2 linked regions of the Homo sapiens genome follow. The protein of the gene in region 2 interacts with the protein of the main gene of each other region in a biochemical or structural test. Each region holds a gene or a part of one and is shown on either strand. Other genes may lie near its edges.

Region 1 (7,362 bases), on a different chromosome or scaffold from region 2:
AAATATTTCTGATCAAACCTTGTAACTTAAACATATACCATAGAGATAATTCTGATGTTCATGAGAACACTTGGACACAGAAAGGGGAACATCACACACCCACACCGGGGCCTATTGTGGGCGGGGGGGAGGGGGGAGGGATAGCATTAGGAGATACAGCTAATGTAAATATTGAGTTAATGGGTGCAGCACACCAACATGGCACCATGTATACATATGTAACAAACCTGCATGTTGTGCACACATACCCTAGAACTTAAAGTATAATAAAAATATATATATAATAAAAAATAAATAAAAAATAAACAAAAAAATTCTGATGTTCATGAAGCTTCTAATGAACAATTACGTAGCCTAGTTTTGCCTTCATGACATTCTTACTGCTCAGACGCCGCACCCAACTTTAATACTAAACTTTTTTTTTGAGACGTAGTCTCACTGTTGCCCAGGCTGGAGTGCAGCAGCGCGATCTCAGCTCACTGCAACCTCCGCCTCCCGGGTTCAAGTGATTCTCCTGCCTCAGCCTCCCGAGTAGCTGGGATTACAGTTGTGCACCACCATGCCCAGCTAATTTTTGTATTTTTAGAAGAGACGAGGTCTCACCATGTTGGTTAGGCTGGTCTCGAACTCCTGACCTCGTGATCCACGTGCCTCAGCCTCCCAAAGTGCTAGGATTACAGGCATGAGCCACCATGCCTGGCCAATACTAAATATTTTAACAAAATGTTTTACTTTCATGATTTCCAAAAATAGTAACAAAACTAGAACAAAATTTAACACTCTGTATCTTTTTTAAAACATTACTTGTAACTTTTATGATTAGTAAAAACTGTAGTTTTGATAGAAAACAGTCTTGGTGTTATATTGTCATAGGGCTCAGGTACATAATTTTATATGCAAACCACCATTCTCCTAGGTTTTCTATACACATGGCCTTTATGATACTAATCATTCTTTGAAATTATTAAAATTAATGTCCACAACTGGAAAATATGTTCGCTTATACTATTTGGGTAAACAGTCTACATAATGAAAAGGAATTGATGGACCCTCAGACATCACTGGGGAACTTACAAGAGATTCAAGAAACTGCTAAATGAGCAAAGATAGAGGGAATTATTATTCGATGCTTGTTAAATCTTCATGTACATCACCACACCAGCATATCAAGATAGGAAAAATATTACTCAGGAAAGTTAATTCCACATAAAAGTATCCTTTCTATGGAGAAGAACTTAAACCAAACTTTCCACTTGAAGTAATATGAGAATTGGTTTACTGTAACATTTAAGTGCAAAAGAGGAGGTAAGAATGGGATCACTGTGTAAGTTTCATAAAGTAATCAACTAATCTTAATCCTCCCATTTTCACTTGGAAAGGACCAAGAAACCTTTTTCAATTTTGATAAGTCAATCTGATAAAAAGTGAACTATAAATAAGAGACAGCATTGTTTTAGCAGTTAAAACACTTGTTTAAAAAAAACTATCTGGACTCTGACAAGCCGGTTAGATTGACAAGATCTGTGAAATCAGTTTTAGAGTTTTTAAGCCCTGGTATCTTATTCACAAAAGACTGTATAACATGGTCAATATTTAAAGACCTTAAACTATCTTCTCTTTCCTACATTTTTGATAAACATTAATAACAGTAAAGAAACCAGGCGCAGTGGGATTACAGTCCTGAGGCCGAGGCGGGAGGATCACTTGAGGCAAGGAGTTTGAGACCAGCCTGGCCAACATGGTGAAACCCCGCCTCTACTAAAAATACAAAATTAGCTGGGCATGGTGGGGCGCCTGTAATCCCAGCTACTTGGAAAGCTGAGACACGAGAATTGCTTGAACCCGGGAGGCAGAGGTTGTAGTGAGCGAGATCACTACGTCACTGGACTCCAGCCTGGGCGACAGAGTGAGACTCCGTCTCAAAAAAAAAGGAAAAAAAAAAAACAGTAAAGAAAGCCTGTAGTAGATTATCAATTTCTGAAACAGTCCCAAGGCAAATTCAATTGAGAACTCGTTCCACGAGTTCATTGCTTAAGAAAAACAGCGCTTGTGTTTAATCTTTTGGATTAAAAAAAAAATCAGAGCCTACGTCCTACAGTTTTAGTAAAACTGGGCTGAGCAACTGGAAAAAGCCAATGCTCAATCACAGTATTAAAATACAGAAAACTTTGCGGAAAAAAAATAAAGGAAGTCGGGGGGCGGGGTGGGGGGGGAATGCGTTCGCCTCACATGACCACGATGAGCTGTTCTTGCTCCGGTTCTAATTTGAGCTACTCTCTGGATTTTGGGGAAGGCCCACTTTTACACATTCACTCATGAAAAGGGAGCGCACACAAATCCGGCCACGTCACCAGCTGTTGCGCGCGAAGGCAGCTTGGCGGCGTCGGTGCTGGTTCCGGAGGGCGCTCAGCGGGAAGAACCGGGACACAGAAACGGGGGCAGGGAAGCAAAGGGGGAACAAGAAAAGTGGAAGCGATGTCCCCAAAGCAGGTTCCCTTTCCTCCTAAACTTTTTGGCTCTCAGACAAATCCTAAAAGTCCCTCGTCGCAGCATACAAAGTTGTGGGTAAATCCAGCGCAGTGGGGGGCGCACGGCCTTACCTGTGCCATGGCGACTACTCAGGTCAGGGGAAGGTGAAGCAGGACTGCAAAAGAGAAGAAACCTCGGGCTTAGCGCGCCATTTGCAACTCGTGCCCTCCCCAAGCGCAGGTCCGCGGGGACCCGGCGGCGCTCAGACAGCCCGGAGGGCCCCGCCACGGGGCCGACCCGCCCTCTCGCAGCTACCGGGACAGCTCTCGGCCGAGCGTCCGCGCGAATCCAGTGCCCCGCGACCACGCTCTCCTCTCCAGAAGGAGCCCCCTCCCCGGGCTGCGACCACTCACCCAGACTGTGGGACCCAAGTGCCCCGAAACCCCGGGAGAGCGGCGGAGAGCCGGGCGACGGTACGCGGGGCGACGCCGAGATGCAGACGCTGAAGGATCCGGCAGCTGCACCTAGACTGATCCAAGCAACGGAAACGCCAGCGGCCCCACCCCGGCCCTGCCCGGCTTGGCCCGTCCCACCCCCGCCAGGGCCCCAACCGCAGGCCGGCCGCGCCAGCCGGGCCCGCCCCTGCCCCGGCCTCAGCGCGCCTGCGTGGGTCGCGGCTCGTCCCAGTTGGTCTCCCGCGGCGCGGACTGTCCCGCTGGTCTCGCGGGCCTGGGTGGGGAGCGGCCGCAGAGCTGCTGGAACCAGGAGGAGGCGCCGCTCCCCCGAGGGCCCCGGAGACCTCTTGTCCTCGCGCCGCGGGAAGGGCCTGGGGAGCTGTCCAGGGCTCGGGGTTTTGGAGGTGCTTGAGCCTCCCTGCCCTCTGTGACCGCAGGAACCGTAGCCTCACTTGGGTGCTCAACATAGTGCGTGGGCGTCTTTTTGGAGGCGAGACAAAATCATCGCAGCTAAGGACAGCGCGCCTTTGTCGATGGGATAGAAAAAACGTGAAAGGAGGGCCGTTTCCCAAGTTGTTTTTGTTTCTGTTTTGTTTTGTTGTTTTGTTGTTGTTTTAATGCCTATTATTGCTTCCTAGATGGCCCTCTCTTAAATGTACAGCCTTCTAGTAGCGTATGTGGGCTATTTGAAAACCTCTGCTTCCAATCAGTTTCTGTTTTCAAAACTAGCCTAGAACTTTAATATGACTTAAATTTGAGCAATGCCTCATATTGGTTCAACATAAAATATATGAGTATATGAGAGAGAGGGGGAGGGAGGGAGAATCTACAGCGTATTGTACTAGCATGGTGCTGTGTTCTGTGAAAGGGCTTTATATGCAAAGCAGCCCCCAAACGCGAAGGAGTCAAGAAACCAAAGAACGAGACAGACAAATCCAGTCTGTAGGTAATAGGGGTGCTATTGGAGGATGTGGTAGACAGAAGCGTGGCCTTGGGCGGCGGCAAGCAGATAAATTTCTGCACTGTTACTCCCCAGACCCTGGCCTTATATACCGTAAGGAAAGAGTATACTGCTCTGTGCAAGACAATTAAAGGCAGCCCTCCGGAACAGGTGAGAATGCCGTATGCTTCATAGCCTACAATGTGGGCAATAGCATCAAGGTTGACATGTTCTTATGCTAAGGACAGTTTAAAAAAAAAATCCTAGGAATCAGGAGGTATTCATGGGACTGGGGTTATTAAAGGTCAACATGGCGGATTAGCATCCGGGATATAATCACTTTTGTCTCCATATGCTGGAAAAGGAAAAGTAGAAGACACAGGGACCTTCTCAGACTTACTGGTGTGGGGAGGGAAGGTGCCAGGGCAGAGGGGGCAAGAGGACAAGTTTGCGACACTAGATGCAGTGTTCTAGACATATGCTAGAATGGGAAGGGCAAAGTGCTTCTCAACGTGGAGGTTAAGGGTAAGAGATGAGGATCTAGTCTTCTTTGAGAATGAGGAAGAATAAATTAAATGGACAGCAAATGTGGTTCTTTGTATAGAACTTCTCATTCGCTTTCACGTGTGAACCACATGCCTATTCCAGCCCTGACAAAGTCACAACAGAGTGGTTGTTCTCTGGGAAAGGAGGCAAAATTGCAAAATTTGTGGAGCTTGCCAACCCCATCACCCCCACCCCACTGGCGGGTTGCCTTTCCTCTGGGAGCCTCCTCTCCACCAGCCCAGCTGTCTACTCAGCCTCAGGCTCTCCCCAAGTCAGCACCTCCCCCGGGTTTTCTTTACAGGTATTAATATATCTGAAGGCAGCCCTTTTCTGAGCATCTGTCTCCGTTGCTCCAGCTTTTCTACTTTCTCTCTGCCCTGCACCAAAAGCAGGACCTGTAGTCTTGCCTAGAGCATTCTTTTTTCTCACCCATATCCACTTGAACTCAGTTTGCTTCTCTCACTTTCTACTCTCACATTAATGGAGTTAAACAGGACCTCAGAGATCCTGTATTTAACAATCATTGATTTTACAGGGACATGAGACTCATCATGGGTTAGTGACTTGCTCTATGTCCTGCAGCTAAATACTGACAAAATCGATGAGTTATTGGACTCAGAGTCTTGAAATACTCCAGGTAGCATTTCTTTCACTTCCAGTAATATCAGTTTATTCAACTCCTACTCTGGACCAGGCACAGATCTAGGTGCTGGGGTAAACACGGCAAGTGAAACAAAGGCCTTGCCCTCATAGGTCATACATTCTGGTGGAGGAAACAAACAATAAACAAGTATCTAATATGTCCTGTGTGATGCGTGGTATAAAGAAAATAAAGGCTAGGGAATGGAAATGAAGGGAACACTTATTTTGCAAAGGTGATATGAAGCCATTTCTGAGAAGCCTTGAACAGAAACCTAAATTGATACAATTTAATTGTATTTGACAACTATACACTGAGCACCTGTGGAAAGGCCATACCTAAGAGTTTGCACCTTAATATTATAGATAAAGCATGTATATGAACACTACAATGAGAGACTATAAATCAGGAAAGAAATGCCTAGAATGCAATCAAAATGCAATTAGTTTCAGAGGAAGGAGCTAATATTTTGTCAGATGGTTGACATAGCATTTGGATTAGGCTTTTGAGAGAGGATATTTTATCAAACTATGAAGGGGAGAAAGGGTGGTCTGGTTAAGTGAACTGCAAAACCAAGAGAAGGAAAGTATCTCTTTGTGTCTGTGTGATTTGAACTGTCTAAAATGGCTGGAGTGGAAGGTACAATATTAGAGTTGAGAGATGTAGAAACTAAAACACAAAGAAGCTCAGCGACTTATTTAGAATAAAGAGAGATTGCCACATAAAGATTCTGCTTTGAATTGTGTATTTAATTGATGGATTTTGAACAACTGATGTTCTTAACTACTGAGTGATATAAATGATAGGCACTCAGGAAATCTCTTTCACTACCTCTTGTCAGCCTAATAACAAACAGAGAGGGAGACTTTCTAAAAGAAAATGATGTTTATTTGGGAATGGGCATTGCAATGGGAATATGTGTGCCATATTAAACTATTTTGCGTATTCAGGGAGGTAAAGGAAGGCAAAGGTTTTTCAAGGAAGAAGGAAGATTACATCATTGTTTTTGAGATAATTATCCTTGGCTACAGTAATCAATAACTAGAGTGGCACCAGTCTAATGTTGTACAGGCAGTTGCTGGGCAGATGTCTCCGCAGAAGTTCTCATTTTCTCTCTCTCTCTCTCTCTCTCTCTCTCTCTCTCTGTGTGTGTGTGTGTGTGTGTGTGTGTGTGTGTGTGTGGTTGCAATGGCCTTTGTCCAAAGTTGTGGTTTTTGCAGTATTTTTCAATAGTTCTTGTTATCAGGCATTTATGTATTAGAACCCTCCCTTCATGGCCTTCCCCAGCCATTTGTCAGGGATTTGTCTCGTTTTTTAACACAATTGACTCCATTTTGATAAGGACAGCTTTCACACTCTTAAAAACAAGTGTCTGTCATTCATCCCCCAATGGCCTTTATCAGTGTCCAAATGTCATCTTTAGAATCTCTGCCGGATTCGCCAGTTAAGTCTTTCATCTTTCTAATTAAATTTTCTCTTCTTACACATTTAAAAATTAAAGTCCTTCTTTCTCAGTGTATTGTCTTTGTGTTGTGTTCATTATAAGTACTACATAATAATTGTGGGGAGTTTTTTATACTATTCTTAGATATAAATAATGAGTTTCAGCTGTTTTCTATGAGACACTCAGGTCACATCAATTTTCTTTTTATTAGAGAAATATACCAAATGCCAGAGAACTAATTTACAAACACACTTTTGAAACTGTATTTATTTGTTAACTCAGGATTTTCCCTATTTCTCTCAATTATTTGGATCATTCAGGAACTAGCCAATTTATTCTAAATAAGTCGCTGAGCTTCTTTGTGTTTCAGTTTCTACATCTCTCAACTCTAATATTTTGATCATATATTCATGGCCCTACTGTTTCCCTTGATTATAATGACACATAAAGAAAAGAAAATGAGTTACAGGCTTTTTATAAATAAGTACAAAACAACTCTTCTTTAGTTTTAGAGGAATTGGAATCTTGTTTTTTAGAAAATTATAACATTTTCAACCAGTCTACTTTAAAAATTGATTTTGTTTAATAAATATATCTATTGCAAATTATGGCAAGTTAAAGAAGAAGAAAAGATGGCAGGAGAATGAATTGCATGAAGCAGAAGAAACGAGAGAGTGGCTGAGGAGTAAAGTAGGGGCTAGATACAAAGGGAAAGGAGGAACATCATGTCTTCCAGGCAAGATCTGGAAAAAGCACACTCTCTGAAGACAGAGACAGTTGAGTTCAAATCCCTACTCTGCCTGCATACCAGGGATGTGACTTGGACAAATTATGTGATTTCTCTGATCCTTGGCTTCCTTATCTAGAG
Region 2 (7,080 bases):
GGAGGGAAGCCCTCTGGGGTGCCCCCACTATGCTACTGCGTCTCTGAGGAAGCTGGGATATCTCTCTCTCTCCCTTCAGGGTGAAGCTGGAAAACCTGGAAAAGCTGGTGAAAGGGGTCCGCCTGGTCCTCAGGTAAACGCCACCGTTCCCAGCCTCAGGCATCTTTCCTAGCGTCTCCCTCCCTGTGGCCTTAAACACAGTGCATCCAGTTCAATGAGGTCACTTCTGAGATGAAACGCCAGTAGCCCCTATATTTATCACGACCATGTTTGTAATTTCCACTCAGGCTCTCATGAGGGAGGCTGGGCAGTTGTTATTTATACCACTTTGCATAAAATGGGGGGTACGGGGAGGGGTGGTCTGGGTTTTACAGAAAGAGCTGTCCAAGTGTGGGGATTCGAGACAACGCCCTGGTGGCCCAAGGGAACTGGAGGCCCTCCTGCAGCCCAGGGCAGCTTTCCACTGTTATTTTACTCTGTGCTCTGAACACCTCCACTTTGGATTGCAGGGTGCTCGTGGTTTCCCAGGAACCCCAGGCCTTCCTGGTGTCAAAGGTCACAGAGTAAGTATCACGGGTGAGAAGGTTGGAAGGAAGAGATGCCTGGTGGGAGAGAAAAGCACTTTGGGGTGCGTGCATTTCTTCCAACTTGGGTTTCCCAGAAGTCTGATTGAACATTTTCTCTTGTTCCCTAGGGTTATCCAGGCCTGGACGGTGCTAAGGGAGAGGCGGGTGCTCCTGGTGTGAAGGTGAGAGGCCAGAAAGTACAATGGGATGGGGAGGAGGGAGACAATGAGGAGCCCCTCTTCCTAGCCAGGGAGACACTGTGGAGCTCAGTGGAACTAGCTCCTCAGAACAGCCTTGGCTGGGAACACCAGCCCTACATCCTGATGGGCCAACAGCAGGCCTGGAGAGCTCAGGGCATTGTCCCTCACAGGACTGAAGTTTGTGTCAGTGCGAGCTGAGATGACCAGGGCTTTTGGCGTCTTCCCTAGGAGTTTGCTGGCGGCCAAGAATGGGGTCCCAGACACTGACCTTGTGCATCATTTTTCCAGGGTGAGAGTGGTTCCCCGGGTGAGAACGGATCTCCGGGCCCAATGGTAAGTATGGACACCCTCCAGGAAGGTTTATCAAAGACTCTTCAGACTATCAGATGGCTGCAAAGAGCTCCCTTTGTGCAAAGTTCATATTCTGTGTTGTAGATTTCATCTGATTGTGAGCAAAAAGCAAAATGTATTAGACAGATGATTTGTTCAAGATTTCACCAACATTTCCTTAAGATACCCATTTTATCACACTAAAGATGCTCCCATTTAAAAAAATTCTGTTGAGTCTCAACATTTTGTCAAGCTCATCTACTGCAAGGAGCAAGGTGTGCTTGTAACAAAGGTTCCCAATAGGTAGCAACAGGAACATTCGTGTGTTCCGCCTGTGGAGAAAACTGTTGGGTGTGATCTGAGGCATCCTGGCTAGTCAAGGAGCCAGCACCATCAGGAGGTCCTTGTTTTCCTGGGTGTGGGCATCCTCCCTCTCCTCTGGTATCCGCAAAGGGCCTGCAGGTAGAAATGGTCACCCTGAGCACCGTAAAGCCAACTCATGCTTAGGCTGTCCTGGTGTGTGTTCCAGGGTCCTCGTGGCCTGCCTGGTGAAAGAGGACGGACTGGCCCTGCTGGCGCTGCGGTGAGTAATTGACAAAGCCAAACACCACCATTTGCCGAGCACTTTAGAGTTTACAGGTTTGTTTCTCTTGACCCTCGAAACAACCCTGTGAGGCATAGGGAGTATTGTTATCCCTTAAGAATTCACCCCCAGTGTGCCCATCAAAACTTCCCAGGCTGAGTCTGCACAGTTGAAGGAGGAAGGATAGGAATGGGAGGGTCGATGGGTGAAAGCATGATTCTCTTAACCAGTCCAGATTATCAGGTAATCCCTTCAACAACCACCACCCACTCCCTGGGCAATCCAGCTGGAGTTTACAGACAGACTTAGCTGGCTATAGCACCACCGTGCTACTCTCTGTTCTTCCTGGTTGCTCAAATGCCCTAGAAAAGTGGAACAGGTGAGCATCAACTCACAGGGCTCTATGCTGGCTGCTGCTGTGAGGGATGTTATGCTATAGTACCAGGGGCCACCATTCCATAGGCACTTCCTGTGTTTAATACCCTATATGCTTTACTTCATCTCATCTTCCTCCATATCCTGAGAGGTGGTTCTATTCTTCTCCCCATTTTACGGATGAAAAAACCGAGACACAGAAAGGTGAAATAGCTTAAGATAAATAGTGCCTTGCAGCCTTAGACTCTGGTGGCCTCTAGTTAATGTGGGAAATTAAGGGTGAGGGGATTGGCAGCTGATGGAGGGTGCAGGGTGCCAGACAGAGGCGTTTAGCTCTGATTCCTTAGCAATAGAGAGTCCTTGTAGGCACTTGGTCAGGCGAGTGATGCGATGAAAGCTGTGTTTAAGAAAGATTATGCTTTCTGCTGATTTCATACCCCCAACACCCAAGCTCTGAGGCCCCTCCTCACAGGTCCTTGCAGGGCTGGCCAAAATAAAGCAGCTTCACTCCGTTGTGCTGCTTTCCAGCTAATGTGTCTGTTTGGCAGAAGTTTCCCTCAAAGGCAGATCAGTGAAATAAGCAGAAGCCTCGACCCCCCTTTGTCAGCCAGAGCTGCTGAAGTGCCTTGCCCCAGGGTCACTTTGTGTGAGGGGATTAGAGAGCACTGGGGCTGCCAAGAAACACTGCCGTTTCTACAGATTAGCAGGATGCTGGCTTGTGGCCTTTTAGCGAGGCTCAGAGCTGCGGTGGCCCTAGTCTGCATGGGCTAAAGACAAGCTCCATCTCCTGTCCTTGTTCCCTCCTTCCTGGGCACAGCCGCCCTGCTTCTTGGTTCTCTCTGTTGGTTCCTGTCCGCACGGTAGTTAGGCTGGCAGCGTGTGTAGGATTTGGCTTAGAAGATTGACAACATTGCCTTTGAGCCCTTCTTTGCTACTCCTCCCTCTCCCCTCCCATCAGACTCCTCTCTGGAGTCTGCTCTGCGAGGCCTCTGCTCTGTGGTATCCCAGCAGCCTTCTCAGCCTTGACTTCCAGAAGGGGGCTGTGCAGTGTCCGGGGTGTGCAGGCCCCAGACACGGGGTAGGCTCATGGAGATCCAAGTGCTGATCTAGTGTCAAGGCTGGCCTGGAGACTGGGCTGGGTTGGTGTCTGCCTGCTGTGGTCATGTGCCCTCCCTTGGGCCTGTATCCTCTCTCCAGACTTGCTGCAGGGAGAGGTGGCAGATGTCAGCCTAGTTCTGGCCTCTCAGAGCAGCATGGCAGCTCCCTTTCACTCAGGCCCAGGCTGGGCCCTCCTGCTGGCTGACCCCTGGGGAGAGGGTGCTCCAGAGCTCCCCAAGGAACTGCTTCCCGAAGCAGCCAGGCCAGCCCAGAGGGGCTGTGGCCAATCCTGAAGCTTTATGTTCCTGCTGACATTTTTTCTAAGTTTTCTCTTGCTTTCCTCTTAAATGCCAATCTGGAGAGTCTCCGTTAGGAGAAATGGACCCCAGCCAGGAAGAAGAGTTGAGTTGTATTTAAAACACGAGCTCCCCCTAAAGCATCCTTCTTTAGCTTCTAAGGAGAGGCAGAGACTGACAGGCAGGACTCAGCAGGAAAAGGTACCCCCCTGACCTGCTCAGTCAGGCCCTAGGCCCAGCTCCACCCAGCCTGTGGCCCCCAGAGTTTCGGTAAAGAGTTCCCTGGGCCTTAAGGAACCTTGAGAGAGCATTTGAGGGGTGCCACCACAAACTTGGCAGAAAAAACCCTCCCCCTCCAAGTCCAGTCCTAGAGAAGGAGCTGGCAACCTTGCCTTGCTTTGTAAGCAAAAGCCTCTTAGGGCTTGAGCTCAGATGTAGTGTTTGAGCTGTGGCTGGTGCCCTGCCCCATCAGGGAGCCAATGGTAGACATCCTATGGGCATCTTTGTTTTCCGTAAGAGCAGGCTGTCTGGGGATGGGCCAGAGGAAGAGGCAACCTGGAGTCAACCAAGAGGAGGCCTTAACCAAGCCTTAACCACAGAGGTTAACCAAGCCTTGAAAGCGCTTCCCCCTGAGCAGGCAGGAAGCACTGAGTCCACATGGTTGCCTCGCTGTTTCATTTCCTTACACTCAATTCTCTCAGTCTTTAAATGATCACTTGGCCTTGAAGTTACGGATATTTGGGGTCTGAACTGAAGTTGAAGAAAAGAGAAAATGATTTAAGCTTTGTTTAAGATTAGGGGCCAGGTGCGGTGGCTCACGCCTGTAATCCCAGCACCTTGGGAGCCTGAGGCGGGTGGATCACCTGAGGTCAGGAGTTCCAGACCAGCCTGGCCAACATAGCAAAACCCAGTCTCTACTAAAAATAACAATAAAAAAAATAGCCAGGTGTGGTGACACATGCCTGTAATCCCAGTTACTCAGGAGGCTGAGGCAGAATTGCTTGAACTTGAGAGGTGGAGGTTGTAGTGAGCCAAGACCGCACCACTGCACTCCAGCCTGGCGACAGAGCCAGACTCCGTCTCAAAAACAACAACAAAAAAAGATTAGAAGAAGCCCATTACTGCCTTCTGGCCACCCACTCGCACAGACACCAAAACTGCAGCCCACACCTCGCCATCCTCGTGCTCTGCCCTGGGACACCCCAGGCACAGTGTGTCCTTCGTTTTCTGTAAGGGTGGGCTGGGAGCAGGGACGGACAGGGCCTGTGGGCACCTCTCATGGTCACTTCCTTCTTGCTCACAGGGTGCCCGAGGCAACGATGGTCAGCCAGGCCCCGCAGGGCCTCCGGTAAGTTCATTTCATCCTCAGCAGGTCATTGTTGCTGTGCTTTAAGTCCCGTTAAGCAGCCCAAGGCAGTCTGCAGGGTGTATTGGGTGCAACCACAGCAGCACTCTGATGTCTACTGGAAAGGGGGAGGAAAGAGAAGAAGTTTGTAAATATCAATTGAGCATATCGATAACAAGCTTTGAAGCATGGGCTCATTTTCCTCAGCCATCCTTTCAGCAGTCTTTTTAGAGGAGGGAGGTCAAAGGAGTTTCTGCTTCTCACCACAGATGTAGTCAGAAACTTGCTTTGCCTTCTGAAGCCAGGCAAAGTTTCCTGGGGACGCTGGCAATGGGGACAATTTTCATCCAAGGCCTTTTAGCCACAATGGATATGGAGTGAAATCAGTACAGAGGAGGGAAGGAGTGTGAGGTGTCGGGGTGGCTCGCTTTGGAGGCCAGAACTGGCATTCACCTCTCTTCTCATCCGCCTACTCTCTCCAGGGTCCTGTCGGTCCTGCTGGTGGTCCTGGCTTCCCTGGTGCTCCTGGAGCCAAGGTACGTGCCCTGTTGTCCAGTCAGGAACTTCTGGGTGCCGAGAAGCTGTCCTTTCCCCGTAACCCTTGCTCATTGCTCCCTCAACAACCACCTGCTCCCTTCTGAGAAGTAGCTCCCCACCACCCCACCCACTGGCCCCTCCATCCAGGCAGGGCAAAAAGCCAGACACTCGCAGTCTCACCTGGAGGGAAAGTAAGACAGAAGATAAAATGTGGGAGATCCAGTTACAACTTTGGAGTGGGGAAAGGTGGACAGAGAAGAAGACGGGGATACACCATAGGCCTGGCAGGGGCAGAAGGCCAGGAGTGGCAGCACAGGGAAGCAAACCTAGGGGAGACCCAACAGCTGAGCAAGCTCGGGGCCCTGACGGGCACTGGAGGGAACTGGGCAGGGAAAAGGGCACAGGCAGGGAGCCCCTGCTCCCCTCTGGGTTTCTGCTTTATTTGGGGTGCCTGGCTCTTCCAAACCATGTTAACGGAGTTCTCTGGAGGATTACTAGAGGCCAGTGGGAGGCCAGCCAGTTCAGGGACAGGCCTCGCAGCCCAGGAAGGATTCCAGTGTGAACGTCCCTGGGAATGAATAAGGAGCCTCCATGTGTCACTGGCATCAGGTTGCTTTTCCCCTCCTGGGGGTTTCCATGGCAACCAGACAGTGTCTGAGGTCCCGGAGCCGGGTGAAGGAGACCCATTGTGAAGAGGGACAGCGGAAGGTGAGGGGGGCTGACCTTTTGAAAATAATAATTACCACAGTGAAGCAGGAATGTTCTGAGAAGAAACCTGAGGAGGCTCTGCCCTCTCTCCAGGTCAGCAGCCCTCCCCAGGGACTCTGCCATCTAGAGTGGGTTGTAATTTTCAGGAAAAAATGAAAGTAAAAGCACAAGCCATTTTGTGGGGAGGGGGCTTGCCAGAGGCGCCCGCTAAGGGGAATTGGGCTGTATTGAGAGCAGGGAGGGGCAGAGTCCCCATGTGCTTTTGCCTTGGCTTTCTGGCTTACTGAGAACAGACTGGGGCCGGAGCCAGGGTGTCACTGTTCACCCGTCAGCCAGATGGGAGTGAGGTGGTGCTCTGAGCTGGGATGTTCAGAGACTTAGAAGGGACCTCAGCTCCTCAATAAAATAGAAAAACAGGAGGTGGGGGAGAGAGCGGTGTCCGTCCATCATCCCACGGTGCCAGGATGGCAGGGTCCCCAGCCCACGCTTTTCTGATGGTGTCGATGGAACAGCAGGTTGCCCATTGCTGTAGTATGTAGCTGTGCCGTGGCATGTGGAGGCTCACTGTGTAGAGATGAGGTAAGCAGTAGAGGAGGCAGGCGTGGGAAGTCATCAAGTCATCAGCTCGGTCAGGCAGGGAGAAAAACGGCAGCGTGAACTGTGTGTGAACGCACATGTTCATGTGCAGGGTTGGGTGCATGTGCATAATTTAGTGCTGTGCTTGCAGCTGGCCCTGAGCTATTGCCCACCCACTAGAGGTCTGTGTCCCCTCTCTTCTTCTTCATTTCATCCTCCCTGTCTCTTCCCAGGGTGAAGCCGGCCCCACTGGTGCCCGTGGTCCTGAAGGTGCTCAAGGTCCTCGCGGTGAACCTGGTACTCCTGGGTCCCCTGGGCCTGCTGGTGCCTCCGTAAGTGCAGCTTCTCTTTGGCCTGGGGGGGTCTGGGGTCTGTGGCTTTGGAACTCTTGACTCTGTACTTTGCTCTGACAGTTGTGGGCTCCAACCACCAAACCTTCATTCTGGCCCAATGCCTGTCCCCACCT

The links. The genes of interacting proteins can lie anywhere in the genome.
Region 1: the proteins of COL2A1 (region 2) and ANXA5 form a complex in vitro, tested with the Homo sapiens proteins (one study listed by BioGRID).

What each region holds. Positions count from the first base shown.
Region 1 is NC_000004.12:121,693,981-121,701,342, forward strand, and holds the start of ANXA5 (annexin A5), read right to left. Parts: upstream 3,001-7,362; 5' UTR 2,883-3,000; intron 2,645-2,882; 5' UTR 2,610-2,644; coding exon 2,601-2,609; intron 1-2,600. UniProt on the Homo sapiens protein: This protein is an anticoagulant protein that acts as an indirect inhibitor of the thromboplastin-specific complex, which is involved in the blood coagulation cascade.
Region 2 is NC_000012.12:47,987,477-47,994,556, reverse strand, and holds part of COL2A1 (collagen alpha-1(II) chain isoform 1 precursor), read left to right. Parts: intron 1-79; coding exon 80-133; intron 134-509; coding exon 510-563; intron 564-694; coding exon 695-748; intron 749-1,054; coding exon 1,055-1,099; intron 1,100-1,625; coding exon 1,626-1,679; intron 1,680-4,751; coding exon 4,752-4,796; intron 4,797-5,275; coding exon 5,276-5,329; intron 5,330-6,847; coding exon 6,848-6,946; intron 6,947-7,080. UniProt on the Homo sapiens protein: Type II collagen is specific for cartilaginous tissues. It is essential for the normal embryonic development of the skeleton, for linear growth and for the ability of cartilage to resist compressive forces.